Homo sapiens: one gene and its partners. The protein of the gene in region 4 interacts with the protein of the main gene of each other region in a pairwise test. Each region holds a gene or a part of one and is shown on either strand. Other genes may lie near its edges.

Region 1 (7,676 bases), on a different chromosome or scaffold from region 4:
CTCATTCCCACACAGACTGTTACACACAGGGTCACTCACACATACCTGGGAACTGGGGGTTCATATAGCCTACTCCCTTCTCCCCCTGGTCTGTCTCAGACTACCTGTCTGTATCTCTGTCCCCTCCTCCAACCACCACCACCACCACACACACATAGGAATTTTCCTAGGGGCAGGCTGCAGCTGAGGAAGCCTGTTTTGCCTTGGTGCAAGGCATTCGAGGGCAGGATGTGGTTTCTTGGTTGCTCCTGCCCCAGCCCCCAGCCTGGGTCCTGTCCAGGAGGAAACCCAGCTTAGAACAATGTCCGCACTGATCAAGGCTCAGCCCTGGACTCCACCTGCCATTCACTAGAGTACAGAGACCCAGGGTCTCCAACAGCCCCTCTCTCATACTATCCTGCAGCCCTGGAAAACACTTCTGGATCCCCAAGGACAAATGGGTCAGTTCTGCCATTTGACTAAAGTGACTAAAGTTGCCATTTCAGGGGCCAGTGTCTCAATCCCCTCCATAACCCTATGTGATAGAGCTTATGATCCTTATTTACAGATAAGGACATGTATTGGGGATAACCAAGTGTCCAACTCCAGATCACCAGCTAATAGCAGACCCTATATTTGAATCCAGTTGTGTCTGATTTTAACTTTGAGTGTCAAAGGCTTGCCTGTCTCCTCAGTAGGCCCGCTCCCTCACCAGGGTATTGGAGAGGTAAGGACCAGGGTAGGGGAATGAGCCTTCCCAGCAGCAATGAAAGAGTAGCCTAGGGCACCTTCTTCAGAAGTCAACTCAGCCATCCCCCTACCTGCAGGGATGCTGTTTCCAGCCTCACGAGACCTGACAGTGAGCAGCTCACTCTCAGAGGTCTCCCTTCAGTCCCGTCTGAGTAGGAGGTGTTAGGTCAAGAGCCCAGCCCTTCACCCCTTTCTCTTCCCTGCTCCTGAACTGCTGGGCTACTTTATACAGGGGACCCTCTTTTTCTGAGCTTTCATTCCCCCATCAGCAACATGAGGGGAGTAACTCTAACCCTTTTGACTTCATAGACAGAAAACAAAATGCAAAATACACTATTTTTTAGTCTTATAAGCACGCATGATGTTGTGTCATAATTGTTGCAATCTATCCTTAACACCTCCTGTGACTCAGATCTCTGTGGCAGCTCAGTTTCCCATGACAAGAGCACCCCCTCAAAGCTCCCCTCCCTGCTAGGACCTGTCCCCTCCTATCCTTCTCTACCACCCCAATCCTGTTATGCCCCCAGGATGCCCAGCTTTTGCCTTAGGCCTGGGGCTAAGGAGTAAAATCGGATCAGAGGAAAGTGTGGGTTCAGGAGCCTGACACTTCTGGGAATAAGGCCTCTGGGAAGACAGCTCACAGAAACTTTCCTCTTCCCTTTGCTTTCTTCCCTTCATTCAAACCAGACCTGTAAACCTGGCCTGGAGGAGGATGGAACCAGGAAGCAGAGCCTCCACCCCTATCCCAACCCAGTCCGTAAGAGGAGGGAACGATGGGCAAGAACCACATCTTGGGTCTGCAGCCCTGGCCCCTGAAAGATCCCAGCCGCACCAGGAAAACCAAGGCCTGGCTGGGGGCGCTGTGAGGAAGGTGTCTTGGAAGGGGGAGGTTGTCTCCTGGGGCTCAGGACAGCAGCTGGGCTGGGGAACAGGGGCAGGGAGAGGATGCGTCTGGAAAATAATCTGGGGGCTGAAAAATGTGCTGGCATCTTAGCTGAGAGGTATGTCTGTCCACATCTGGGGTTTCCGCCGAGGTGGAGTCTGCCCTCACCAAGGCAATGGTTCTGGGACAAACTTCAAGGTTCGTTCAGGTCCACTCCCCACAGATCTCAGTTCTTTAGGTCTGGGGGTAGCAGTGGGAGGTGATAGGAAGAACCTGTTTCCTGACCCAGGACAGGCCACCCAAGTCTATGTCTCCTCTCTGCTCAAGCAAGTCCCAGCATCTTTGGACAGCTCCCCTCTTCAAAAGCAGCTGACCACTGTCCCTAGCCCAGGATCCCAGGGCAGGAAAAGCAACAAGGGCAAGAGAGAGGGGCTGCGGTGGTCCACCTGTGGCCTGCTCTCTGGTGGCACCAAGGAGCCCAGGTGTTCTTGCGTGTCCCAGTATGCCTTCTCTTGGGGCCTGCTGTCAGTGCAGGATGAGAATGGGAGGTCAGCAGAGTGGGTGAGTGGGGGCGCCTGGCTGCTTCCAGGGGGGCACTGAGCCTTCTGCCTGTTTGCTACAGAGGCTGGTAGGGGACGGGGGGTAGGTTCCATCTGGGAGGTCACTGGGAAGGACAAGCTGCCACCGCAGGGCCCCAGGAGCCATGAATCAAAGGCTGTGCTGGGGGCTGATGAGAAAGGGAGAGGAGCCGGGTCTCCGCACCCTGGCCCTCTCAGCTCCTCCCAGGGTCTTCTCAGGGTCTTTGAGCAGGTGGATTGTCTGGGGAGGCACTGCGGGAGAGGGGTCTGGGTCAGACTGTGGGGCAGAGGGAGTCCGGGAGGATGCCGGGCTGTGCCAGGGCCGCTGACACGGTTTAGAAGGAGTTGGGAAAGTGCTGGGGACAAAGGAGAAGCGGAGCAGAAGTCAGCGCAGGGCGGCCGCGGGGCAGCGGGTGCCCGGGCAGAGGGACCCGGGTGGCGAGGAAGAGGGCGCCTCGCTGGGGTTGGGGGGAATCCTCTGTAGTCCAAGCCCTCACCTGGGCCTTCCAGCCCAGGGGCACCAAGTCTCCAGTCCCTACTCCCCCCGAGGCTTTCGGATGCCCCCGCCAGCGGTCTCGGAGTTTCGTTCAAGTCCCGGGGCCCTCCACCAGGACACTGCGCCTGCAGCCCGCAGAGCCACCCGCCTCCCCCGGTGTCGTCGGGGTCCCTGGATCTCACCTGGGGGCGGGGGCCGGCCCTGCCCACCATCCCGAGCAGCAGCAGCGCAAGGCGCAGCGGGCCGGGGGCGCCGGCCATGGCGGGGAGTTCAGGACTGGGCCATCGCTGCCACCTGCGGAACCGCGTGCGGAGACTGATCCCGGGCTGGTGGCGGGCGGTGGGGGAGGAGCCGGCGAGGGGCCGCCCTGCCCGCGGGAGGGGCCTGGCAGGGTCCCGGTTCTTCCGGCCGCCAGAGACCCCTGGGCCCGCCCCGCCGCACCCCTCTGCCGGTCCCGGGCCAGGAGATAGCGGGCACTGCTCTCCGAGCGAGCGCGGCTGGGAATCAGGAAGCGCAGGAGGCGGCCACCAGCTCTGAGCGCCGACAGTGCGCCTGGCCGGCTTTCAGCGACAAGCCAGGCCCTCCTCCCACCCTGGCACCCCGGACCTCCTCCCGGGTCTCCCAGCTGAGGAAAGCTACAGCAACCCCCGCCCATTCAGGGTCCCTCAAAGGAAACTGAGGCCTGAGGAATGGACGGGACTTGTCCAAGGTCACACGGCTTGGCAGGCCACTCCTGGAAAGTATCCTCAGAGCCAGGGGTGACTAATAAGAACTTTTTTTTCCCAGGATTACCCCTTCCCAGGTCCTCTTCTCATTCCCATGTTCTGTCCTGAAGGCAGGCCCAGGATAGTCAAGGTTGGGGGTGGGGAGACTGACAAATGGATCCACAGAACTCTGACAGTCGCAAGGGTCTAGAGGTTCCCCTCTACCTGGAAACTTCAGCATTGCAGGGCAGGGAGGGATGAGGCTGGGGTCTGCCTTTCTGGAAGCTTCCCTGCCACCTCTTGCAGCTCCAGCCTCCTGCTCTTGTAACCTGTGTATGTGTGATAATGTGTGTCCATGGTTGTTCCTGCCTTCTTTATCTCTCTCCCTGCTTCGCTTCTTGGGGACTCTGGATCTTTCCTGTCTGTTTCCACTCCCACCCCTAAACACTGCAGGGCCCTCAGGTTCCCTTCTTACACCCAACAAGTGGAAAGAGAATGCTAAGAGGGCACTGACTGTATCTTCCCTAATGCTCTTGAGAAGTGGGGATGGGAAAAGAGGATCCCCCACCAAAGAACCTTGATGCCACTCTTAGGAAAGATGAGTTGTGGCAGAGCCCAGCCTCGGACCTGCCGTGGGGCATGTCGACTAAAGGGACAGGAAGTTTGTGAAAGTAGCTACTCCTGGGGAGAGAACTGAACTTCTCAAAGTCCTGAGGAAGGCTGGACCTGCCTGAGCCCAGGGAAGGAGACAGCCAGTGGGAGGGGCCCCTGGCTTCCATTCACCAGGAGAGACTCTCCTCTCCAGCAAGCTCTGGTTCCACCACCTGAGACTCGTTTATTCCCTCCCCTCCCAAGAGGTCAGTCTAGCAGGGACCTTCTAGGTATCACTTAGGATTAGGTTGTTCACCTGGGAGTGACAGAAAATCCCACCCCAAACAACAATGGCATAACCAAGGGCTCTCTCATGTAAAGCAAGGCCAGAGGTTCAGCCCAAGGTTGGAGTGGCTGCTCCCTGATCATCAGGGTGCCTGGGTCTTCTAGCTTCCACCATCCTTTGGTCCAAGATTTCCACCTCATGATCCAAGGTGGCTGCTCCAGCCACGATATCCAAATTCCAACCAGCAGGAAGGAGGAATGGGAAGGAGATGGGTGCACCTCCACCCATAAAGACACATCTTGAAAGTGGCAGCCATCAATTCCACACCTCTTGCTCAGAACTTAGTCACATAGGCACTGCTAGCTGCAAAGGAGGGTGGGAAAAGCACCCTCTATTCCAGGCAACCATGGGCAAGGTTAAATACTGGGCTTTTATACTCTAGAAGAAGGCAAATTTTAAAAAAGATACTGGAAGTGAGTTTTAGGCACTGCTATATCAAGTTTAGGGTGGAGAGAGGAGAAAGGAAGAGATAGAGAAGCTATTCAGACAGAACTGGGGTCTTTATCATGAATTTGTCAGCCTCCAGATTACATTGATTCAGCAAGTATCTATCGAAAACCTACCATGTGCCAGACACCATTCTAGGTCCTGGGGATACAATTGGTGATGCTGTCCCTATCTTCAGAGAGATTATATTCTAATACAGGAGGGAAACATTAAATAATTATTGGAGTCATTTATAATTGTGTAAGCACTATTATGGTAAGCAAATGCCCCCAGTACTTATAAGGCCATGTTTTCTCTGCCAGGGGGCTTTCTCTGACTTGGAGAACATTTTTGCATTCAGCCAGTGCAGGGTAGGTACCCCTAAGAGCAGCTGTCAACCATGGATGGACAGGAGTGGATGGATAAATACCCCATCCAGAGGTGTGTACCACAGTCTCCCAGAGGTCCCCTGTGCGATGGAGCCCAGCTTCCCACAGCAGTTACCTGCTCAGTAATGCACCCTGTGTTGGCTTCATTTCCTCACTTGTCCCACTTTCCCACAGTAGGGTACCAGTGCTTCCGGGGTCACACCTCACATAAACAATTTGGCTGGGCATGGTGGCTCACCGTCTGTAATCTCAGCACTTTGGGAGGCCAAGGTGGGCGGATCACCTGAAGTTGGGAGTTCGAGACCAGCCTGACCAACATGGAGAAACCCCATCTCTACTAAAAATACAAAATTAGCCGGGCGTGGTGGTCCATGCCTGTAATCCCAGCTACTCGGGAGGCTGAGGCAGGAGAATCGCTTGAACCTGGGAGGTGGAGGTTGCAGTGAGCCAAGATCATGCCATTGCACTCCAGCCTGGGCAACAAGAGTGAAACTCCGTCTCAAAAAATAAAATAAATGAAAAATAAATAAATAATTTGTCCTTAAATCCTTATCTCAGGATCTGCTTCTGGGAGAGCCCAGCTGAAGACAGTGGGCATATGAGGGTATTTAGGAAGCTCAGGGCCTGTCCCTCCTCTTAACATCTGGGGGTCCAAAAACCTCTGAGTTTGCTGTGATGCTAGGACAGAGTATGGACTCGGGAATACAGTTTCCTTCTTTCCCCTTGCTGTTACCAGGGCCTCTCACTCAGGCTCCTTAGAGCAGAGGAAAGGATGAGCTCCCTAAGAGCAGAGATTTGAATGGATGGCATACTGTTTGGTAAACTGTTAACACCTGTAATCCCAGCTACTCGGGAGGCTGAGACAGGAGAATCGCTTGAACCCAGGAGACGGAGGTTGCAGGGAGCAGAGATCATGCCACTGCTCTCCAGCCTGGGTGACAGAGCAAGACTCCATCTCAAACAAACAAACAAGCAAAAACCCTTGAAAACAAAGACAATAGCTACTACTTATTGGGCCAGGAGCTGCTGAATGCTTGGTGTACCCTGATCTCATCCAGTATTATGCACAAGTGTTATTGTGCCAATTTTATGGATGAGGAGACCGAGGCTCAGGTATGAAAAGTGAGTTGCCCATAAAAGCAAACAGGGCATTCATCCCAGGTCCACCTGCCCTGAGAGCTGGTGCCGACACCCCCAATAGGCAGCTGAATTTGTGGCAGCACAGAGGATGCAGGCTGCAGCTCAGCCAGCCTGTCCGGGAGCACCTCGCTCTACAGCCCAGAGCTCCGGGTCCTGCTCCTTACCCTTAGGCCCAAGGCTTCTCCAGTGACCCTAGCGTGGGGTGCCCTCAGCTTCCACTAAGAAAATGTGGTATTGAGATTGTCTTCAGAAATAGGAATGGGAGCAACTGATGTGTGCTCCTGAGGAAAAGGTGCTGTAAGGCCCATTCGCCAAGGAGGCAGACCTGAGAGCAGGCCACCCGGCCCTCTTTTGTCTTCAACAGGAAAACCTTGTCCCTAGCAGGAAGACCAGGTCAGTGGACAGGACAGATTTTTTTTTTTTTTTTTTGAGACAGAGTCTCATATTGTCACCAGGGCTGGAGTGCAGTGGCGACACTGCAACCTCGCCTCCTGGGTTCAAGTGATTCTCCTGCCTCAGCCTCCCCAGTAGCTGGGATTACAGGCACCTGCCACCACGCCCAGCTAATTTTTGTATTTTTAGTAGAGATGGGATTTTGCCATGTTGGCCTGGCTGGTCTCGAACTCCTGACCTTGTGATCCTCCCGCCTCAGCCTCCCAAAGTGCTGGGATTACAGGCGTGAGCCACCGCGCCCGGCCCAGGACAGATCTTTCACTTGAGAGGAGGCAGGAGGGAGAGAGAGGCAGGAAAAGAGAGGGAGGTTGTAGAGTGGAGAGGAGGAGAGGGAAGGAAAGGGAATTGCTAGAAAAGACAGGTGTCTCTTCTTTTTTTTAATTTTTTTTTTGAGACAGAGTCTCGGTCTGTCACCCAGTCTGGAGTGCAGTGGCGCAATTTCAGCTCCTTGCAACGTCCGCCTCCCGGGTTCAAGTGATTCTCGTGCCTCAGCTTCCCAAGCAGCTAGGATTACAAGCTTATGCCACCATGCCCAGCTAATGTTTGTATTTTTAGTAGAGACAGGGTTTCACCATGTTGGCCAGGCTGATCTCAAACTCCTCGCCTCAAGTGATCCACCCACCTCAGCCTCCCAAAGTACTGGGATTACAGGCATGAGTCACTGAGCCCGGCCAGGACAGGTATCTCTTGCACGCATAGTTCAGGTTTCTTTCCAAGCTCCATGTCCCTAAGAAACTCATTTACTTCCCAAAGTTCAAGACCACATTCATCTTCTGAGTGATGAAATAAGGAAAGAGCCAGCATTTTTTTCAACCTGATATAAACACACATGCATACACATACCTAAACACAGATTTTTAGAGTCTGACAGTCAAATCCATCTCAGTCACTTACTCTGTATCCTTAATAGCACTAAACCTTGGTATAAAATGGGTCCAGTA
Region 2 (7,021 bases), on a different chromosome or scaffold from region 4:
GTCACATTCAGTGTTAGACTTAAGCAACACAAGGGCAGTTTTTATCTCTGGTTTTCTAGCACATGTTTTTTCTGTATCTTGTGATGAGATAAGAGATAGTGATCACTTAGAGAAATAAACACTGCTTGTCTTTGAAGCAGTAACAAATGATTCATGCCTTTCTTTTTTTTTTTTTTTTTTTTTTTGAGATGGAGTCTTGCCCTGTTGCCCAGGCTGGAGTGCAGTGGCGTGATGTCAGGTCACTGCAACCTCCGCCTCCCAGGTTCAAGTGATTCTCCTGCCTCAGGGATTACAGGCGCATGCTATCACACCCGGCTAATTTTCGTATTTTTAGTAGAAATGGGGTTTCTCCATGTCGGCCAGGCCGGTCTCGAACTCCTGACCTCAGGTGATCTGCCCACCTCGGCCTCCCAAAGTTTTGGGATTACAGGCGTGAGCCACTGCACCCGGCCTTTCTTTTCTTACTATGCAAGATGATATGTTTTCAAAGGATAGAATAGAATGACCTTTTTTCATCTTTGATGTTATTTTCATGAGGACTGTAAACATTGGTGTTTTCCCCCTTATTGAAAGCCCGCTCTGTTCTTGGCCTGCTGGGAGCAGGAGGAATGTTGGGCGGTTTTTCTCTCCCTCTTCCTCTCATGCCTCTCCGCTGACTCAGACTGACCGGTAATCCAGAGGTCTGGGTCTGACTCAGACTGACCGGTAATCCAGAGGTCTGGGGATAGATGGAGTTGACGGTGTGTGTTTTGGAGCTCAGTTCTTTTAGTTCACACAAGACCTAGTTATCAGAAAGAAGCTTTAAAAATGAAAATCCCCTGTCACTTGTAGCCACTGTTGGGCTGAGGAGAGGAAGCACACGCACCCTTCCTCATGGATGACTTTTCAGGAAGGACTCGAGTGGGTGTGTTGGGCATACCCTGTCTCCTTGCCCAGATTGTATTTAGAAAGACCTCAGAGGCGCAGAAAGTTGAAGGAATAGTGCAGTGAAGTCCTGGATGCCCTTCCATTCTCAACATTGGCTCTGTTTGCCTTAGCACTCTCTAGATCTCCTTATTTTTTAAATTTATAATACAATTGTTTGTGTTTTATTTATTTTTAAAAATTGATTCAGCTGGGCACAGTTGCTCACACCTGTAATCCCAGCACTTTTGGAGGCCGAGGTGGGAGGATTGCCGGAGGCCAGGAGTTCAAGACCAGCCTGGGTGACATAGCAAGACTCTATCTCTACTTATATTTTAAAAATGTATTGTAAATTGACAATCATAATTGTGTTGCCTGTTGTTATTTTGACCAAACCATTTGAGAGTAAGTTACTATTGTGACCCTTTATCTCTACATTCTTCAGAGTCTATCTCCTAAGAAGGAGGCTGTTCTTCTTCATAACTGAAATTTATATAATTATCAAAATCTGGACATGTAACATTGAATACCTGATTTAACTTACAATCCATATACAAATTTAAACAGTTACCCCAACAATGTCCTGTTCCCCTACCCCCTGAAATCCAGGATCACAAGTTGAATTTAATTGTTGTGTCTCTTTAATCTCCATTGATCTAGAATAGTTCCTCTTTGTCTTGAGAAAGCCAATTTGTGGAAGGACCCTCAGTGGGTCTTACCGGGTGTTTCCTTTGATTCGATTCAGGTGCGCTTTGGCAGGAGCACGGCACAGTGATTCTGTCCTCTCAGTATCCTCCGTGGGAGGCACATGCTGTCACTTTGTCCCATCATCATGTTGTTCTGGGTTATGGTGGAGATAACTGATCTCTTGGAAGTGCCACCTCCTCTCCATGAGTAATGACTCACCTGTGGGGAGGTGCTTTGAGACTATCTTGTCAGTCCACAGGCAGACTCAGTGGTCTTGGCATCTTCGGGGGCAGACCCAGTGGACTTGGCATCTTCGGGGGCAGACCCAGTGGACTTGGCATCTTTGGGGAATTCTTGCCTGCATTAGTGTTGGCTGTGATGATTGTAAAATGGAGGCTTCTCAACTCATCATTTCTTCAGCATTTGCCACTCGGCCTTCTCTTTATTTCATGTCAGTGTGGCTTCTAGGGGTTAGAGTTCATGACTGTTATCATTTATTTTGATGTTCACTTGGCCCAGATATGGCCAGAAAGACTCCCTCCAGGCTGGCTTCTGGGTCCTCTTGCCATTCGTTCATGTCTGTGCCACTCTCGGGCACTGCACACTGTCTGTGGCTCATGTGTTCACTTCCTGCCCCACTTCTGGAATCAGCCATTTCTCCGAGGAGCCCTGCTTCCGGCTGATGGGGAACAGCACGTAGAAACCACGACCTGGGCACCAAGAATACACCTCTGCTGCTGGGTGTTGTCCTTTCTAGGCCCTTTCAGCAGACAGAGCTAGGAGTTGAATTTTAAAACCAAGAGTTCATCATGGTGCCCGTCACATTGCAGCACCACGGGGGTCTTTGCCCACCATCAGCCCACAGTTGCTCCTTCCTCCCACAGTGCCAAGTAGCTGGGGACTTGGGAACGTCAGCAGTGCTGTTCTTATCAAAGTTTCCTGTAACCCTGTCTCTCAGCAGTGATTTAAGAAATTAAGGCTTTTCACTGGTTGTCAATTTTCTTTGCCTCCCTGGGGCTGAATACAGCCTGTTGTTTCAAGTATCTAAAGTGGCTTAAAAGAAACTTCTCCATAAACCGAATAGCACATCGCTAGAGACTCTGAGAAAAGTACTACTTAGTGATAATTGCTATAGAATATGTGACAAAATGTGCTTTCGTTTCAAATAAAGTGGAGATTTATTCAGAAAAGTGGAGTGTAGAACTACACTGTTAAATAGAAGGATCACAACAATGTACTCGATGTATTATTTGTCCCTTTTGGTAAACGTAATGAGTGAAATTGTAAGTTAAAGCTGAAGCTCTTTTCCCTCCATTTCATCATGAAGCTCTTCACATGGACAGCAAAGCTGCAGGATTTTGTGGTGCGCGCTTGTATACCCGCCACTTCAGCCGTGTCGCCATGCTTTGCTGTGTTGCATTTGTCCAGGTGTCCCCCACAGCCTTCCACGCCTGCGTGAATGTCAGTCACAGACGTGAGCATCAGTCACAGACATGAGCGTGCTCTCCTGCCTTCACCATGCCTGTCAGGGACCAGAGTTCAGCAGTTGTCTTGTTTTTTCTTTTGAGATACATTTTTCTTACGGGAATATGTGGGAAACTTAATTGTGCTGTTCAGTGAGTTACACCCACATAGCCGCGACCGAGACAGACCCTCGATCTGGAAGATTCAGCCTCCCCCACGCATGGCCGTCCCCCAGGCAGCCATTGCCCCCCTCCCTCCATACGTGAGTCTCACCTTTTCTAGAGCGGCATAGCCACGAAATTACACGGTAGGGTCTTTTGTGGAAGGCGTCTTTCGCTCACATGATGTGCTTCAGACTCATCCATGTTTTACATAGAGCAGTTCGTTTCTTTTTATCGCTGAACAGTGTTAGTGATTGCACAGCCGCCTAGCTCACCTCCAAAGGAGAGACACGTAAAACAGCCTTTTGTGTTTGGAATGCCTTTTCCAGAAGATCCCTTGATACGAGAGCCGCATGTTTGCTATTCTTGATGCCCTGCTGGTATCGTGTGAGTGTTCCAGTCTGTCTGTCCACCCTCCTACAGAGTGACATCTGGGCTGTGTTCAGCTTGGGGCTGTCACGGAGCCTTCCTGCGCAGGTCCATCTGTGGATGCAGGCGCCTTCTCTCCTGGATGAAATACTAAGAGTGGAATTGCTGAGTCATAGGTGGTCGCATGTTTGTTTAGGAGCAGCTGCCAGACCTTCTTTGCAAATGGTTGAGCCATTTACACTTCCACCAACACTGTGTGAGAGTTCTGTTGCTGTACATCCTTGCCAACATTTGGTATTGTCATTCTCTTTAATTTTAGCCATTCTGGTAGGTGTGTAGTCATCTGTCATTTGGAGTTTTAATTTGCCTTTGTCTGGTGACTGGTGATGAGCACAGAGCTCTTTTCAGCGTGCACTGTGTTTGTGTGTGTGTGTGTGTGTGTGTGTTATGGGATTGGAGTAGGCAGTCTGTGTGTGTGTGTGTGTGTGTGTTACGGGATTGGGGGAGTACGCAGTCTGTGTGTGTGTATGTGTGTTATGGGATTGGGGGAGTAGGCAGTCTGTGTGTGTGTTACGGGATTGGGGGAGTAGGCAGTCTGCGTGTGTGTTACGGGATTGGGGGAGTAGGCAGTCTGCGTGTGTGTGTGTGTGTGTGTTATGGGATTGGGGGAGTAGGCACTCTGTGTGTGTGTGTGTGTGTGTGTTATGGGATTGGAGTAGGCAGTCTCTGTGTGTGTGTGTGTGTGTGTGTGTTATGGGATTGGAGTAGGCAGTCTGTGTGTGTGTGTGTGTGTTATGGGATTGGGGGAGTAGGCAGTCTGTGTGTGTGTTACGGGATTGGGGGAGTAGGCAGTCTGCGTGTGTGTGTGTGTGTTATGGGATTGGGGGAGTAGGCTGTGTGTGTGTGTGTGTGTGTGTTACAGGATTGGGGGAGTAGGCAGTCAGCTTGGTTGCATGTTGGAAGTTACTCATGCAGTCGCTCTTGCTTCTGACTGGCTTGAGTTCCAGAGCTGTTGGCTGCGTGGAGTTTGACCCCTTCCTTAGTAGCAGCGCTTTGAGTAGTGGGCAGAGTCTCAGGGTGTTCTGTGTGGTTGGAGCAGGCTGGTGTGCCGGGCCTCTCCCTTGGTACAGGTTGGTACAGGGAGCATAGCCCAGTCTGGAGTGAGGCTACCAGGGGACTAAGACCTTGCTTTGTCACATGAGATCTGTAGGTGAGTCCAAAGACACAAGTGTGCTGCGTGGCAGTGTCGCTGGCGTTGCTGTGGCCTCGGATGGAGGCTCTTGGGTTCCCAAAAGAGTGCCTGCTGATGAGCAGAAGGTCCCAGCAGGTTTGTGGTTAGTGATTACACAGCCACAGGGCACACTTCCTCTCACAGAGAGATCTGAAACACAGCCTTCTGTGTTGGCACTCTTCTCTCCCAGAAGAGCCCTTGTGGATAGGAGCCGCATGTTTATACTCTTTGTGCCCTGCCTGCAGCGGGGTTCCTGAACACTCGTTCCACATGTCTTGAAGAAGGCTTGTTATCAGCAGGGGCTCAGGAAGAGGACCTTCATTTGGTAATTCCACATCAGAGGTTCTTGGTGCCACACCCCTCACTGGTGCCCACCCTGCCCTGCTGGACTAATATTTACACTGCCTGATTCTCAGTGACTGACTTGTCTCTTGCCTCTTTCCTGCAGCTTGTTCTCAGAACACAAACAAAACCTGTGAAGAGTGCCTGAAGAACGTCTCCGTAAGTAGCACGTGGACTAGAGACCAGAGTGCCGTCCAGACCGTCCAAAGGCACACGGGCTTTCTCTAGGTCCAGGGATTCGCTGGGATGTGTGGAGGGCTCTGTTGTTTGGGATTTGGGGGGATGTTTTTTGGAATCGTTATCAAATGTTATTTTAGCCATTTCAGGTATATTAAACCTTCTCATGAAAACTGCAGTTACTGTCTGAGCATGGTCAGTATCCATGATTTCACTCCTATGCAGATGGGGCCAGCACTGCGTGGCCAGTCTTCCTAACGAGGCCCATAGCGAGAAATTTGGCTGTCCGCAAAGCTACACCCTCAGGTTGTGAGCCCGTGTTTTCCCAGGCTGTCGGGCTGCAGCAGAGACTGCTTTCTCAGCTGCTCACACAGGATTGGAAGGGGCACAGCAAGGAGAGAGAGGCACCAGCCCTCTGGGCCGGTGGGCCAGGCTGTCCATAGCACTCTCTGGTCGTGACCTGGGGCTCAGGTTTGGATTTTAACTACCTGTGTGACCTTCAACAAGAGGGTAGCGGTCTGGAGCAAAGTTCCCTAAGCCTCCACGGCATGAGGTGGGGCCCGAGACTCCCCGGGGTGCCTTCCCGATGGAGACTGATGCAGATGCCCACCTGGAAGAAGGAGCACCCGTGGTGGGGAAGCAGCATCACAGTGCAGGTCTTGTTAAAGACGTGTGAACAGGGCTGGGTGCAGTGGCTCACGCCTGTAATCCCAGCACTTTGGGAGGCCGAGGCAGGTGGATCACGAGGTCAGCAGTTGGAGACCAGCCTGACCAACATGGTGAAACCCCGTCTCTACTAAAAATACAAAACAATTAGCTAGGCGTGGTGGCGGGTGCCTGTAATCCCAGCTACTTGAGAGGCTGAGGCAGGAGAATTTCTTGAAACCGGAAGTCGGAGGTTGCAGTGAGCCAAGATTGTGCCACTGCACTCTAGCCTGGGCAACAAGAGCAAAAAACTGTCTTTAAAAAACAAAAACAAAAACAAAAACGTGTGAACAGGGTCCTTTGGTTTTCTCTGCGTGGTGGCCTGCGCCTGGGCCAGCCTGGCTGGCACCTCTTGGGCTTGCCTTGCCACGCAGCTCTTGGTTCGGCAGCACCCAAGTCTCCTCGCAGCGCTATGAAATCAGCACGGGAAACCTGAGGGAAGGCCCACGGCAGCGGGAAGTGGTTAGGCAGAAAACAGCATCCTGTGGGGCCTTTTTCTTAGGATTCCTGATCTCGCCCACCCCTTGCCCCTTCCAGTCAGGAGTTTACCAGGTTTTGAGAACTGCAGGGCCAGAGGCTTCCTTTCCCCGGCAATGAGGTTTCATGATATGAGGAGGCCGGGAAAGATGTATTCGATGATTTCTATTCTAAGGCATGAGCCATGTTCTTAAAAACTCTTCTTCCTCCACGAGACCGTAGCGTAGGTTTGAGGAGGCCGGGAAAGATGTATTCGATGATTTCTATTCTAAGGCATGAGCCATGTTCTTAAAAACTCTTCTTCCTCCACGAGACCGTAGCGTAGGTTCGAGACACACCCTGTCAGTTTGTGGGACTTAAGTGGATACTTGCATTTGCTGATTAAAAATTGAAAGACGCTGTTTCTGTGGTTTCAGATCTTGACATTGGTGATGTTGAACCTGCTCTAATGCGCCTGGTCCTGGTGCATTTTCTAGATGGTGCTTCTTTTTAGTCTCTGGATTTT
Region 3 (7,655 bases), on a different chromosome or scaffold from region 4:
AGGTGGAGAATCGCTTGAACCTAGGAGGTGGAGGTTGCAGTGAGCCGAGATCATGCCACCACATTCCAGCTTGGGCAGCAAGAGCAAGACTTCGTCTCAAAAAAAAAATGCCCGGTGAGGTTGACTCACGCCTGTAATCCTAGCACTTTGGGAGGCCAAGGCGGATGGATCACCAGGTCAAGAGATTGAGACCATCCTAGCCAACATGGTGAAACCCTGTCTCCACTAAAAATACAAAAATTAGCTGGGCGTGGTGACACGCGCCTGTAGTCCCAGCTACTCAGGAGGCTGAGGCAGGAAAATTGCTTGAACCCGGGAGGCAGAGGTTGCAGTGAGCCAAGATCGTGCCACTGCACTCCAGCCTGGTGACAGAGCGAGACTATGTCGCAAAAAAAAAAAAAAAAAAAAAAAAAAAATTAGCTGGGTGCAGTGACATGCCTATAGTCCTAGCTACTCAGGAGGATCGCTTGAGCCAGGTTACAGTGAGCTATGATTGTGCCACTGCACTCCAGCCTGGGCAACAGAGCAAGATTATTTCTTAAAAAAAAAAAAAAAGAAGGCTTCAACAGGTCCCCTCCAAGGGACTGGTCTCTGAAGCTCTTGCCATTGCCCAGGGAGGGAAAGTTCTGAGCAATAAAATTTCTTAAATAAATCGGCCAAGTCTGAACCATGTGTCAGCCAGGACCATGGTGCTGGGCCTCCCTCAGTGATGCCTTCTCTGGAGCTGGGAAGGGTGACTCAAAGGGAGCGTGGGAGCCTGCTGGGAAGGGTGGTAATGGATAGTCTCATCTCCGGCATATGGCATCAGCAAGGCCTGGGGCGCCATCGTCTTCCACTCCCTTGGTTCCTCTCTCTGTTCTTATGGGACTAGATACAAATTTTCCTGCTGAGCACTAAATGAGACAAAAGATAGCTCATGCTCAGCTTCTCCTTAAAAAGGAATTTCGGCATCTTTTCCACAAAACTGGGGTGTTGGTGGGGCATGGTAGCTCACGCCTGTAATCCCCCCAGCACTTTGGGAGGCTGAGGCAGACAGATTGCTTGAGACCAGCCTGGGCAACATGGCGAGACACCATCTCTACCAAAAAAAAACAAAAACAAAAATTAGCTGGGCATAGTGGTGCACGCCTGTGATTCCAGCTGCTTGGGAGGCTAAGGTGGGAGGATCCCTTGGGCAGGGAGGCAGAGGTTGCCATGAACTGAGATCACGCCAGTGCACACTAAGGGCATCCTAGACCTCACTTTGGGCAACAGAGCCAGACCCTGTCTCAAAACAACAACAAACAAAAAACCTGGGGACCTAGGATGTCTTTAAGGGCCCTTCAGCCTCTAACAGTACTTAAACCAATTAAAAGACTCCTGTTAGTTACCTCCCCACATCCCCACCCGCAGGACGCTCCGTGATGAGCAGCTAGCTGGCTGTCAGCTGTGTGGATCACCAAGATTGCATGGAGTGGGGCTGAGCTGACCAAGGGGGATGAGGGGCGGGGCGGGGCGGGCAGGGAGGGGGCGGAGCCACTCACCTAACAATAGCTGTAGTGTGTAGAAGATGCAACCGAATATGCTGTTGGATTGATTGAGGATGCTGTCCTGTCCCAGCACATGCTCCACCAGCCCGAAACCCCTGCCCCACCTGGCAGAGGGGTGGGGTGGGGTGGAACCAGGTTAGGACTGTCAACCCAGTGCCTTGGACCCTGCCCGAGAAAGGTGATTTCCAAGAAGCCACCTGGGCTATCCTCTGTTCCCCGACCTCCCATCCTAGTCCAAGGGTCGATGATCTCCTGGCACCGGGCACCTTTGGCCACGTCAGGATTCCATGTCACTGACCCTATCCTCCCCTCTCCCCAGACCAGGCCCGGACGTGGCTACTCCGTAGGCCCTGCTTTTCATCTTAGACCTTAAGTAAGTCTCTTTTTTTTTTTTTTTTTTTTTTTTTTTGAGACGGAGTCTCACTCTGGCCCAGGCTGGAGTGCAGTGGCGCGATCTCGGCTCACTGAAACCTCCGCCTCCCGGGTTCAAGCGATTCTCCTGCCTTAGCCCCCCCGAGTAGCTGGGATTAAGGCACCCGCCATAGCGCCCGATTAATTTTTCTATTTTTGGTAGAGACAGGCTTTCACCATGTTGGCCAGGCTGGTCAACTCCTGACTTCAAGTGATCCATCCGCCTCGGCCTCCCAAAGTGCTGGGATTACAGGAGTGGGCCACCGCGCCCGGCCCTTAAGTAATTCTTAAAATGGCAAGGCTGGTATAACGGTTCACTCGGTTTTGCATCAGAGACTGGGAGTCGGGGGCAGATTATCTTTGCCCTGGACCCCAGAATCTCCAGCTCCCTGGCCACTCACTCGCCTCCTCTGTATTCCGTCATTATGCTAACGCCTGGCCATCACGCACAGCCAGACCGGGCCACCTTGTTCCTGGGCGCAGCCATCGCCAACACCCCCCTTCACCTGCGCGCCGTCCTTGAGACCATCGTCAATCTCTACCGCCATCCTGCCTCCCCGCCTTTCCTGGTCACCGTTATTCCTTGGCATCCAATTCACGTGCGAGTCCCCGGAATAATCCCAGTCCCCAGCACTGTCTGGTCCCTTGCCTCGCACTCTTATTTCGAACACCAGTATCGCTGGGTAGCTCAGCCCCTGTGCAACGACCCCGCGAGCAGTCCAGCCCCGTGTCCGTTCCCCGGGCACACCGATCCCAGACTCCAGAATAATCATCTGGCATCCTGGCCGCCCTGCTCCGAGGCCCCACGCCTCCCACTCCCGTGCACACCTGGAGGAGAAGACGCGCGAACAGCTGATGGCGGTGCCCACGTCGCAGAGCGCGCGGTAATCCCGGTCCCGGGCGCGCGCCGCCTTCACGTGCAGCGCGTAGAGCGAGAGCACTAAGCCCGTCAGGCAAAGAGCGAGCCGCACCCAGCCAGGGCTCCCCCAGGTGCTGCCCATTATCTCCAGGTTCCGCCCGAGGCGCCCGCGGAGAAAACCAGCCACGGAGCAGGGGCCGGGCGGCGAATGGCCGCGCCCCTCCTGGCCCTCTGACTCGGCGATTGGCCGGCCGTGCTCGCACTCCACGACCCAAATGGCTGTTCCAGGGCGCTAGTCAAGCGGGCGAGTTAGGAAAACAGCGAAGAATGCCGGGACTAGTGAAGCGGGTAAGGGACGTGCGGAATCGCGGCCCCAGCGGCTGCCAGGCATGATGGGAGTTGTAGTCGGCGCGGCTGCAAGGCATCAAGGGAAATGAAGTCTCCACAGATTTAAAAACTGTTGGCCGGGCACGGTGGCTCACGCTTGTAATCCCAGCACTTTGGGAGGCCGAGGCTGGCGGATTACCTGAGGTCAGGAGTTCAAGACCAGCCTCGCCAACATGGTGAAACCCCATCTCAACTAAAAATACAAAAATTAGCCGGGCGTGGTGGCACATGCCTGTAATCCCAGCTACTCGGGAGGCTGAGGCAGGAGAATTGCTTGAGCCGGGGAGCCGGAGGTTGCAGTGAGCCGAGATCGTGCCACTGCACTCCAGCCAGGCCGACAGAGTGAGACTCTGTCTCAAAAAAAAAAAAGAAAAAAAAAAGTGTGTTAGTGTGGTTAACAGCATTTGCGCTTACCCTATGCCAAGTCCTGTTGTAAGAATTGCAGCATCCGGGACCTAGAGACCAGCGGATCAGGGGATCCAGCGAATACGGCGATCCGATTCGGGAACCAAGCATTTCCCCTGAAACTATTTCAGGCACCATTCGGGCTGCAGCCTCCCATCCTCCCGGGTCCTGCCTCACCAGTGCTTCCTGGTGGTCGGTCTCCCTTTCTCCCATACATTCACAGAACCACTCCTTTGGCCACACACACCCTTGACAGTATCCTAACCTCTCTACTATCATGGCGCCCGCCTGGCAACACCTGAGCTTGCATCAACTCAACAGTCAGTCTCTCCTTTCCAAGCTGTGGGCCAGATGAGGTCTCTCCTTCACAGACGTCCCATCTGATGGTGACCCATCTCTCCTACACCTTCAACCTCTCCATCCTCCCCATCTACACTGCAACTTGTTTCTCTTTCCCATCTCAGAAACAGCAACAAATCTCCCTTCACTAAGAGGTCCTTCACCAGCCTCCTCTCCCGGCATTATCCCATCTACCCCTCCACATTCAAGTTTTTGGAAAGATTCTACACTCCCAGTCTCTACTTCCTCACTTCTTCCTTGCTGCCCACGCCATAAACTAGCTGCTGCCTCCAGCATTGCCCTGACACCTAGTGGCTGGTGTCACCAAGACGCTAGACCCAATGGTTATTTATTTATTTATTTACTTATTTTGAGACGGAGTCTCACTCTGTCGCCCAGGCTGGAGTGCAGCGGTGCCATCTCGGCTCACTGCAACTTCCGCCTCCAGGGTTCAAGTGGTTCTCGTGCCTCAGCCTCCCAAGTAGTTTGGACTACAGGTGCCTGCCACCATGTCTGGCTAATTTTTGTATTTTTAGTAGAGACAGGGTTTCACCATGTTGGCCAGGCTTGTCTTAAACTCCTGACCTCAAGTGATCCACCCACCTCGGCCTCCCAAAATGCTAGGATTATAGGCGTGAGCCACCGCACCCGGCCAATGGTTGTTTTTCAGGTCTTCTCTTGCTTGACTTCCCAGAGGGATCCCTTACTGTTGCACCTACCCTTCTGGGAACTCTCTTCCTCTGGCGTCTGTGATATTTCCCTCTCCTGCTGGCTCCTCCCTCTCCAGATGCTGTTTCTCACATCTACTCTCTTCTAGAGAGTGTGGTAGACAGAATAATGGTCACCAAAGATGTCCCTGCATGAATCCCTGGAACTTGTGAATATGATAGGTTAAATGGCCAAAAGGGAATTAAGGTTGCAGATGGAATTAAGCTGACCAATCTCCTGATTTTATTTTATTTTATTTTGTTTTTGAGGTGGAGTTTCGCTCTTGTTGCCCAACTGGAGTGCAATGGTGTGATCTCGGCTCACTGCAACCTCCGCCTGCCAGGTTCGAGAGATTCTCCTGCCTCAGCCTCCCGAGTAGCTGGGATTACAGGCACCCGCCATCATGCCTGGCTAATTTTTTAAATTTTTAGTAGAGACAGGGTTTCGCTATATTGGCCAGGCTGGTCTTGAACTCCTGACCTCAGGTGATCCGCCCACCTCGGCCTCCCAAAGTGCTGGGATTACAGGCGTGAGCCACCGTGCCCAGCCTATCTATCTATTTATTTATTTATTTTTGAGATGGAGTTTTGCTCTTGTTGCCCAGGCTAGAATGCAATGGTGCTATCTCGACTCACCGCAACCTCCACCTCCCCGGTTAAAGCGATTCTCCTGCCTCAGGCTCCTGAGTAGCTGGGATTATAGGCATGTGCCACCACGCCTGGCTAATTTTTTGTATTTTTAGTAGAGATGGGGTTTCTCCATGTTGGTCAGGCTGGTCTCAAACTCCTGACCTCAGATGATCCACCCACCTGGGCCTCCCAAAGTGCTGGGATTATAGGCGTGAGCCATCATACCAGGCTCTATTGATTTATTTTTATTTTTATTTTTGAGACGGAGTCTCGCTCTGTTGCCTAGGCTGGAGTGCAGTGGCACAATCTTGGCTCATTATAACTTCCGCCCCCCCCCAGGTTCAAGCCATTCTCCTGCCTCAGCCTCCCGAGCAGTTGGGACTACAGGCGCGTGCAACCATGCCTGGCTAATTTTTGTATTTTTAGTAGAGACGGGGTTTCACTGTGTTGGCCAGGCTGGTCTCGAACTCCTGACTTTGTGATCTGCCTGCCTCAGCCTCCCAAAGTGCTGGGATTACAAGTGTAAGCCACCACGCCCAGCCTATTTTGTTTATTTTTTCAAAGACCCTTGACACCCAGGCTGGAGTGTAGTGGCACTGTCATAACTCACTGCAACCTCCGTCTCCCAGGTTCAAGCGATTCTTGCACCTCAGCCTCCCTAGTAGCTAGGAGTACAAGTACGTCCCACCACACCTGGCTAATTTATTTTTATTTTTGTAGAGATGGGGTCTCACTTTGTTTCCCAGGCTGGTCTAAACTTCTGGTTTCAAGCAACCTTCCCACCTCAAAGTGCTGGGAGTACAGGCATGAGCCACCACCACACCTGGCCTAATTTGCTGATTTTTATTTATTTTTTATTATTTATCTTAATTTTTATTTTGAGACAGAGTCTTGCTCTGTCATCCAGGCTGGAGTACGGTGGTGCAATCTCAGCTCACTGCAACCTCCCCCTCTCGGGTTCAAGCAATTCTTGTGCCTCAACCTCCCAAGTAGCTGGGATTATAGGTGCTGGCCACCACGCCTGACTAATTATTGTAATTTTTTTTTTTTTTAGTAGAGACGGGATTTCACCATGTTGGCCAGGCTGGTCTTGAACTCCTGACCTCAAGTGATCCACCTGCCTCAGCCTCTCAAAGTATGGGGATTACGGGTGTGAGCCGCCGTGCCTGGCCCAATTTTTGTATTTTCAGTGGAGATGGGGTTTTGCCATGTTGGCCAGGCTGGTCTGGAACTCCTGACCTCAGGTGACCCGCCTGCCTCCGCCTCTCAAAGTGCTGGGATTACAGGCATAAGCCACCATGCCTGGCCCACAGGGGTCCTTAAAAAATGAAGGAGGATGGCAGAAGAAAGTCAGAGGGAGATGTGAGTAAAGAAAAAAGACACAGAGAGCTGCAATGTTTCTGGTTTGAAGATGGAGGAAGGGGATTGTGAGCTAATAAATACGGGTGGCCTCTAAAGGCAAGAAAGGGTAAAGAACTGGATTCTCACTCTAGAGTCACCGGGAAGGAACTATCAACATCTTGATTTCAGCCCAGTGAGACTCTGTCAGACTTCTAAGCTACAGAACTGTAAGATAAATTTGTGTTGTTTTACATCATTAAATGTGCAGTAACTTGTTACAGCAGCAATTAGAAATGAATACAGAGGACTGGGCATTAGGCCTGTATCTCAGCTTTCTCTGATCTCCTGGTGTGTTCCTGTTATTTATTGTTGGTTTCCCCCAGAATGAGTGATCTAAGAGGAAGCAAAATAGAAGCCGCAATCTCTTTATGACTTAGCCTCAGAAGACACACACTGGGGCCAGGTGCAGTGGCTTATGCCTATAATCCCAGCACTTTGGGAGGCTGAGGCAGGAGGACCACTTGAGCCCAGGAGTTTGAGACACCCTGGACAACACAGGGAGACCCTCACTCTATAAAAAATAAACAAAATTAGCCAGGTGTGGTGGTGCACACCTGTAGTCCCAGAACTTTGGGAGGCTGAGACAAGACAATGACTTGAGCCCAGGAGTTTGAGACAGGTCTGGACAACGTGGTAAGACTCTGTCTTTATAAACATTTTTAAAATTAGGCGGGGCATGGTGGCTCATGCCTGTAATCCCAGCAATTTGGGAGGCTGAGGTGGGTGGATCACCTGAGGTCAGGAGTTTAAGACAAGCTTGGCCAACATGGCGAAACCTCGTCTCTACTAAAAATACAAAAATTAGCCGGGCATGGTGGTGGGTGCCTGTAATCCCAGCTACTCAGGAGGCTGAGGCAGGAGAATCATTTGAACCCGGGAGGTGGAAGTTGTAGTGAGCCGAGATTGCCTTCCTCACTCCAAGAGTTATAAAAGATTTTGACCATATTTTCTTCTAGCATTTAATCAATTAATTAATTAATGTGAGAC
Region 4 (7,021 bases):
GGGAGAGATGTAGAATAGGAAAGCAGTAAGAGTCAAGAATGGAGCCCTCAGATCTCCAAAGTGGAGTATGCTAGGTGATCCATTTGGATGCCAGATGAATGTACTAGAAATTCCATTTATATCCTTTTTGTTTTTGTTTTTGAGACAGGGTCTCACTCCGTCACCCAGGCTGGAGTGCACTGGTGTGATCACAGCTCACTGCAGCCTCGACCACCCAGGCTCAAGCGATTCTCCCACCTCAGCCTCCCTAGTAGCTGGGACCACAGGCGCATGCCACCATACCCAGCTAATTTTTTGTTTGTTTTTGTAGAGATGAGGTCTCAAACTCTTGGGCTCAAGTGATCCTCCTCCTCAGCCTCCCAAAGTGCTGGGATTACACGCAGGTGTGAGCCATCGCACCCAGCCTCTATCTTTTTTTTTTTTTTTTTCCTTTTTTGAGACAGAGTCTTGCTCTGTCACCCAGGCTGAAGTGCAGTGGCACGATCTCGGCTCACTACAACCTCCGCCTCTGGGGTTCAAGTGATTCTTGTCCCTCAGCCTCCCAAGTAGCTGGGACTACTCTTGTTGCCCAGGCTGGAATGCAATGGCATGATCTTGGCTCACTGCAAGCTCCACCTTCCGGGTTCAAGTGATTCTCCTGCCTCAGTCTCCCGAGTAGCTAGGATTACAGGCATGCACCACCATGCCTGGCTAATTTTGTATTTTTTTAGTGGAGACGGGGTTTCTCCATGTTGGTCAGGCTGGTCTTGAACTCCCAACCTCAGGTGCTCTGCCTCTTGAGTAGCTGGGACTACAGGCATGCACCACCACATCTGTCTAACTTGTGTATTTTTTTGGTAGAGACGGGGTTTCACTATGTTCACCAGACTGGTCTCAAACTCCTGACCTCAAATGATCTGCCTGCCTCAGCCTCTGAAAGTGCTGGGATTACAGGCATGAGCCACCACACCTGGCCTCATTTTTGTATTTTTAGTAGAGATGAGGTTTCGCCATTATGGCCAGGCTGGTCTTGAACTCTTGGCCTCAAGTGATCCGCCTGTCTTGGCCTCCCAAAGTGCTGGGATTACAGGTGTGAGCCATCATGCCTGGCCTATTTTTATCTTATCTCTTTTTGAATAATAATGGTCAGGTATTTTGTAGACTGTCCCTCAATTTGGGTTTATCTGATGTTTTCTCATTATTAGATTGGGAAAAATACTACACAGGTATCTCATCCTTTTAAAAACTTTTATTTTTGTATGCTTTGTAATATAGCACAAATCAAATACATAATCTATTACTATAGTAGAAGTATATACTTTACATGGAGAGGATGAGAGGGACAGAGAGAAGAAAGAAGGGCTACTTTCCAATTTTGGGCTGACAGGGTTGAAATCTAAAAAGTTTGGCTACCACTGCTTTAAAGGACAGGAAGGGAAAGAAACAGAGGAGAAGCAGCCAAAGGGATTGCAAGGAAAACCAGGAGCCGTGGCTGCATGAAGACCAAAGCAGGGGCTTTTCAAGGAGGGAGTTGCCAGTATCAAATGCTTTGGGAAGTTAGATAAAATTAAGGGATGGAAATTGCCTTTTGAGTTTGGGGAGTCGTTTCAGTGGCATGGTGGGCTTGGAAGGTGTGGGCGGCCAGGTGGGGTGGCTCACGCCTGTAATCCCAGCACTTTGGGAGGCCGAGGCAGGCGGATTGTTTGAGGTCAGGAGTTCGAGACCAGTCTGGCCAACGTAGTGAAACCCTGTCTCTACCAAAAAAATACACAAGTTAGCCAGACGTGGTGGTGCGTGCCTGTAGTCCCAGCCACTCAGGAGTCTGAGGCAGGAGAATCTCTTGAACCTGGGAGGTGGAGGTTGCGGTGAGCTGAGATCCTTACCACTGCACTCCAACCTGGGTGACAGCAAGACCCTGTCTCAAAAAATAAAAATAAAAAAAATTTTTAAAATTTTGTGGGTTAAGTAGTAAACTTAAAATGAAGTATAGAAGCAAACGGTGGTTGACTGCTCTTCCTGGATTCTTCCTCTGAAGGGGAGCAAGGCTGGTAGCTGGTGGAGACTGGTAGGACCAAAGGAGGTTTTTTATGGTTTTAGTTATAGAATGGGAGTGCCTTGAGCGTATTTTTATGCTGAAGTGAAAGGGCCAGTGGAGAGGGAAAAAACTGGTGGTTTGAAGTGTGACTTCATTCATTCATTAACTCAACAAGTACTTATTGAGCACCAATGTGTCGGGCTCTGTTCTCAGCCCTGGGGATAGTGTGTGAACAAGACGCACTGAAATCCCCGCCTTCATGGAGCTTGTATTCTATAGGGCCATCTTTTGATGGCTATTACCATATAGCCACCTCACTCCTGATGTGTTGTCTGTCCTAGAAGAGTGGCTTCCTTAACAAACAGTGAAGGAACAAAGGTCCCTAAAAAGACTGAACACAGGATTGTCTTAGTCTGGAGGAGGGACATCCCTGCCCTCATGTCTGGAGGGAGAGGAGTTACAGATAGGGGCTTATGCAGATAAATTTGTGGTGGGGAGAGGAAGCAGGTAGCTCAAGAAATTCCTCTGTTTTCTCTGTGAAGCTGGAGATGAGGTTATCTGGTGAGACTGAGTTGGGGAGTGATAGCATAGGAAGTTGAAAGTTAGGAAGCCCATTTCAGTTCAGTACAAGGAAAAACTTTTCAAAGGACTAGAATGTTAGGAAAATGGAGCCAGTTGCTGGCAAATGTAGTTCGTATATTGAGGTGGTGTCCCCATCACTGGTAGTATTGAAATAGAGGAGGGGTGACTTTCTGCCAGGTATCCCTGAGACATGCTTATACTTATAATAAGCAGAAGTTTGGACAAATGACCTTCCTCTGTATAGGAGTCCCTGACTCTAAGGTTTTCTAAAGCTCTGGGCTTCTGAAGGACTGTTGTACAGGCATGGAAGTTGAAACTACGAAGCTGGGGCAAAGTTATTTGGTATAGGTTTGCCAGAATTGAATGAGTAGGGCCGTGTCTCAAAACAAGGGTATCTCCAAATCAAAATATGGTTTTTTAAATGTGTATGGTACCTGGGGCTGGGCGCGGTGGCTCACGCCTGTAATCCCAGCACATAGGGAGGCTGAGGCGGGCCGATCACTTGAGGTCAGGAGTTTGAGACCAGCTTGGCTAACATGGTGTCACCCTGTCTCTACTGAAAATACAAAATTTAGCCAGGCATGGTGGCACACACCTGTAATCCCAGCTACTTGGGAGGCTGAGGCAGGAGAATTGCTTGAACCTGGCAGGCAGAGGTTGCAGTGAGCCAATATTGTGCCACTGCACTCCAGCCTAGGCGACAGTGTGAGACTCTGTCTCAAAACAAACAAACAAAATATGTGTATGGTTCTTGGGAAGCATAGGTCTCTTGGTTCCCCATTTTTCTTAGTGTTTGCAGTACTACTACTTTAGTGAACCAAGATATCTATCAGTTACAAAAGACCATTCCATTCTGCTAATTTTTTTGGTCTGTCTTCAGCTAGAGCAGTTTGGACATTCCTGTTCTGACAGCTGTGCCGGATTGAAATTTGTAACTCCCGTGTATCAGCACCAACCTGAAGCCTTTTATTTACTGTCAATACTGCAACACCAAAACATTTACTGTTGCTTCCAACTTTATTTCCATCCCCTGTTAGTGGTACTTTCCTTAGGTCAAGAGAATAACACTGATTCTTTACTAAAGTCTAATTTTCCCATACTAGGTGTGGCTAACATTTGTTCTAGACTTGGAGCCCATTTTTTTAATAGGAACCCCAAATTAAAAAATCAGCCAGGCATGATGGCATGCATCTGTAGTCCTAGCTACTCAGAAGGCTGAGGCAGGAGGCTGAGGCAGGAAGATCACTTGGGCCCTGGAGTTTGAGGCTGCAGTGAGTCATGCAGACTCAAACTCAGCTTGGGTGACATAGCCAGACCCTGTCTCTAAAAAAATAACTAGGTACAAATTTCATCCTTAAATGTAAACAACCAATCGTGTTCACTTTGGTTGCCCAAAGACTACAAAAAGCTCAGGGGCTCTGCCCTTAGGCCTGGCAGTGAAGCAGTTCCCAGGCAGAGTTTCTGTTTTCAAGGGTGCTCAGGATTTGGAGAAAAGTTCCTTTCAGTAACTGAAATTAGCTACTTGTCCCTGTGTAAGCTAGACATCACGAGGTTAATAGATAATGGATGAAGAGGCCAAATACCTCATCCTTAGCTGTGGAGAGCTTATAAAATAGTCCCTTTATTCTCATCTTTATCTTTTAATCCTGAATCCTTAGACTAGTTGACTTTATCATTACAGAATACCTTTTCTTACCCTCTTGACATGTCAACTACAAATACTGTTTCCTGGACTTTGTTTCTAAAGTCTGAAGTGTTTTTATGTTTCTACTTGTGACATGTATGCCCCCCCCCCCCCCCAACATTTGACAGTCCTTATTTCACTAGGGTTGCCTATGGGACATAAGGAAAGATGTTACCTATCCTAAGACATAGTAACCTGGTAAAATCTTATAGTGAAATAATAGGAACTTTATGAATTTGCATTGTGTAGAAAGGATTGATGGTAGAAATAATTTAGAGATTTCAAGCTTCTTCCTTTTTAGTCTGTGCCTGGGCTTTGTTTTTTGTTTTTTAAATTTTGGAGATATGCCACTGATTTCTAATTCCTGCCAAATTGCCACATGCCTCTTTAAGAGCCATCAGTAGGAAGGTGTCTATATCATTAGGAAACCCTGTTTTGTAGTTGTACCTTTGTTGATCTCTTTTTGAGACTTTTGTTTGTTTCTTGTTCTTATCAGGCAGACCCTGAACCAGAATAGGTTCAGAGAGGCTCTGATAGTTGTACTTTTGTTCCAGCAGAATGTGTGGACTTAAATTCTTAGAGTGATACTTTGAAAAAGAATTTGTTATTGTTTAGGACTCAGCATTTTGACCAGTCATAATTTAATACGCTAAGTCAGTGGTGAATGGGGAAACATGTATTATATTTAATAATTGTCAAGGTAAATGATTTATGATGTTGATAATTCATTTACTGATCTGTTTTCTTTTCAGGTGTTTTGGGGAACGAGTTTAGTATATTAAAATCACCAGGGTCTGTTGTTTTCCGAAATGGAAATTGGCCTATACCAGGAGAGCGGATCCCAGACGTGGCTGCATTGTCCATGGGCTTCTCTGTGAAAGAAGTATGTATATATTTTTTAAATGTTTGGAGCTGCTTTTAAGAACATTTTTACTGATTTCTGCTAATAGCCCAAAAAAGCATCAAACGAACGTAGGTACGTTTGGTACAGATTACAAAAGTTAAAAAGCTCATCTGGACCAGGCACAGTGGCTCACGCCTGTAATCCCGGCACTCTGGGAGGCCGAGGTGGGAGGCTCAGTTGAACCCAGGAATTTGAGACCAACCTGGGCAACATAGTGAGACTCCCATCTCAAAAATAAATGAATTAATTTTTTAAAAACCCATTTGTAGTTGGGAAGATTTTGGATGAGTGCTTCAAGCTTGGCTTCTGAAACAAATCATTAGAAATCATTAACTATATAATTATTTATTCATAGTAGTGAAATTCTTTGTATATTAGAGAATGCATCTGTCCTACTCTTAATAGGATATCTACTTTCTGGTTTTTTTTTTTTAGTATAGGCGATAGATTCACTATGAATGATAAAATATATATGCATTATGCCTGAGGTTAGGAAAATAATGTGGTCAGTAGCCATGGGGCAGCCAAGGACCTTGGTTTCCTAGAATGGAGCTATGACCTGTTGTAGTAATTGGCTGCTTATGTGATTGTAGGGGGCGGGAGGGTCTAGATCCAGTCAATGTGAGAGATCGAAAGGTAAGGGCTCAGAAGAAAGGAAATACAGCTTGCTCGGTGCTATCATCTCCTTCTCTTTGTAAGTCTGGTGCTTTTGATGTGGTCTCTAGATATATATCATCAGTCACTGAAAGGAACTTTTCTCCAAATCCTGAGCACCCTTGAAAACAGAAACTCTACCTGGGAACTGCTTCACTGCCAGGCCTAAGGGCAGAGCCCCTGAGCTTTTTGTAGTCTTTGGGCAACCAAAGTGAACAGGATTGGTTGTTTACATTTAAGGATGAAATTTGTACCTAGTTATTTTTTTAGAGACAGGGTCTGGCTGTGTCACCCAAGCTGAGTTTGAGTCTGCATGACTCACTGCAGCCTCAAACTCCAGGGCCCAAGTGATCTTCCTGCCTCAGCCTCCTGCCTCAGCCTTCTGAGTAGCTAGGACTACAGATGCATGCCATCACGCCTAGCTGATTTTTTAATTTTTTGTAGAGACAGGGTCTCGCTATGTTGTCCAGGCTGGTAGGTCTTTAACTCCTGGCCTCAAGCAATCCTTTCTGCGTCAGCCTCCCAAAGTGCTGGGATTACAGGCACGAGCCACCACACCCAGCCTGTACCTAATTCTTTTTTTGTTTTGTTTTGTTTTGTTTTTTGCTACAGGGTCCCGCTCTATCACCCAAGCTAGAGTGCAGTGGCCTGATCTCGGCTTACTGCAACCTCCACCTCCCAGGTTCAAGAGATTCTCCCACCTCAGCCTCCCCGGTAGCTGGGACCACAGGCGTACAACACCATGCCCAGATCATTTTTATATTTTTTGTAGAGACAGGATTTTGCCATGTTGCTCAGGCTGGTCTTGAACTCCTGGACACAAGGAATCTACCTGCTTCAGCCTCCCAAAGTGCTGAGATGACAGGCGTGAACACCACACCTGACCATCTAGTTCTTTACAACCTTAAACTTGACTACTGATGGCTATTAAAATAACTGAGAAATAATTATTAGTAAACTAATGATAGTTACTTTTAGTAGGAATTGTTTTATTTATAAAGATCTTAGTCTAAAGAGGATGTTTTAATGACCATCTTGCTATGTCTCTGTGAAAGATAAAAGTGATGCTGTATATGAGGGCAAAAAATGATGTGGGGGAAGAAAATTTCCATGGCTACATGAAGAAAATATTTTGTGATCTGAAATTTGAAAGGTACCTATGTTTTGTTTACTTGCTTGCTTT

Evidence for each region.
Region 1: the proteins of ATP6AP2 (region 4) and GLP1R interact in a protein complementation assay, tested with the Homo sapiens proteins (one study listed by BioGRID).
Region 2: the proteins of ATP6AP2 (region 4) and PTTG1IP interact in binary tests that used the Homo sapiens proteins (3 or more experiments, as listed by UniProt).
Region 3: the proteins of ATP6AP2 (region 4) and VKORC1 interact in a two-hybrid assay, tested with the Homo sapiens proteins (one study listed by BioGRID).

The regions. Positions count from the first base shown.
Region 1 is NC_000006.12:39,044,111-39,051,786, reverse strand, and holds the start of GLP1R (glucagon-like peptide 1 receptor precursor), read right to left. Parts: upstream 3,007-7,676; 5' UTR 2,947-3,006; coding exon 2,869-2,946; intron 1-2,868.
Region 2 is NC_000021.9:44,863,690-44,870,710, reverse strand, and holds part of PTTG1IP (pituitary tumor-transforming gene 1 protein-interacting protein isoform 1 precursor), read left to right. Parts: intron 1-5,263; coding exon 5,264-5,316; intron 5,317-5,322; exon of another isoform or gene 5,323-6,743; intron 6,744-6,841; exon of another isoform or gene 6,842-6,918; intron 6,919-7,021. UniProt on the Homo sapiens protein: May facilitate PTTG1 nuclear translocation.
Region 3 is NC_000016.10:31,091,789-31,099,443, forward strand, and holds the start of VKORC1 (vitamin K epoxide reductase complex subunit 1), read right to left. Parts: upstream 3,010-7,655; 5' UTR 2,942-3,009; coding exon 2,769-2,941; intron 1,634-2,768; coding exon 1,524-1,633; intron 1,079-1,523; coding exon of another isoform or gene 995-1,078; intron 1-994. Other genes in the region: zinc finger protein ENSP00000375192-like, read right to left, coding at 3,096-3,590.
Region 4 is NC_000023.11:40,583,954-40,590,974, forward strand, and holds part of ATP6AP2 (renin receptor precursor), read left to right. Parts: intron 1-5,032; coding exon 5,033-5,163; intron 5,164-7,021. UniProt on the Homo sapiens protein: Multifunctional protein which functions as a renin, prorenin cellular receptor and is involved in the assembly of the lysosomal proton-transporting V-type ATPase (V-ATPase) and the acidification of the endo-lysosomal system.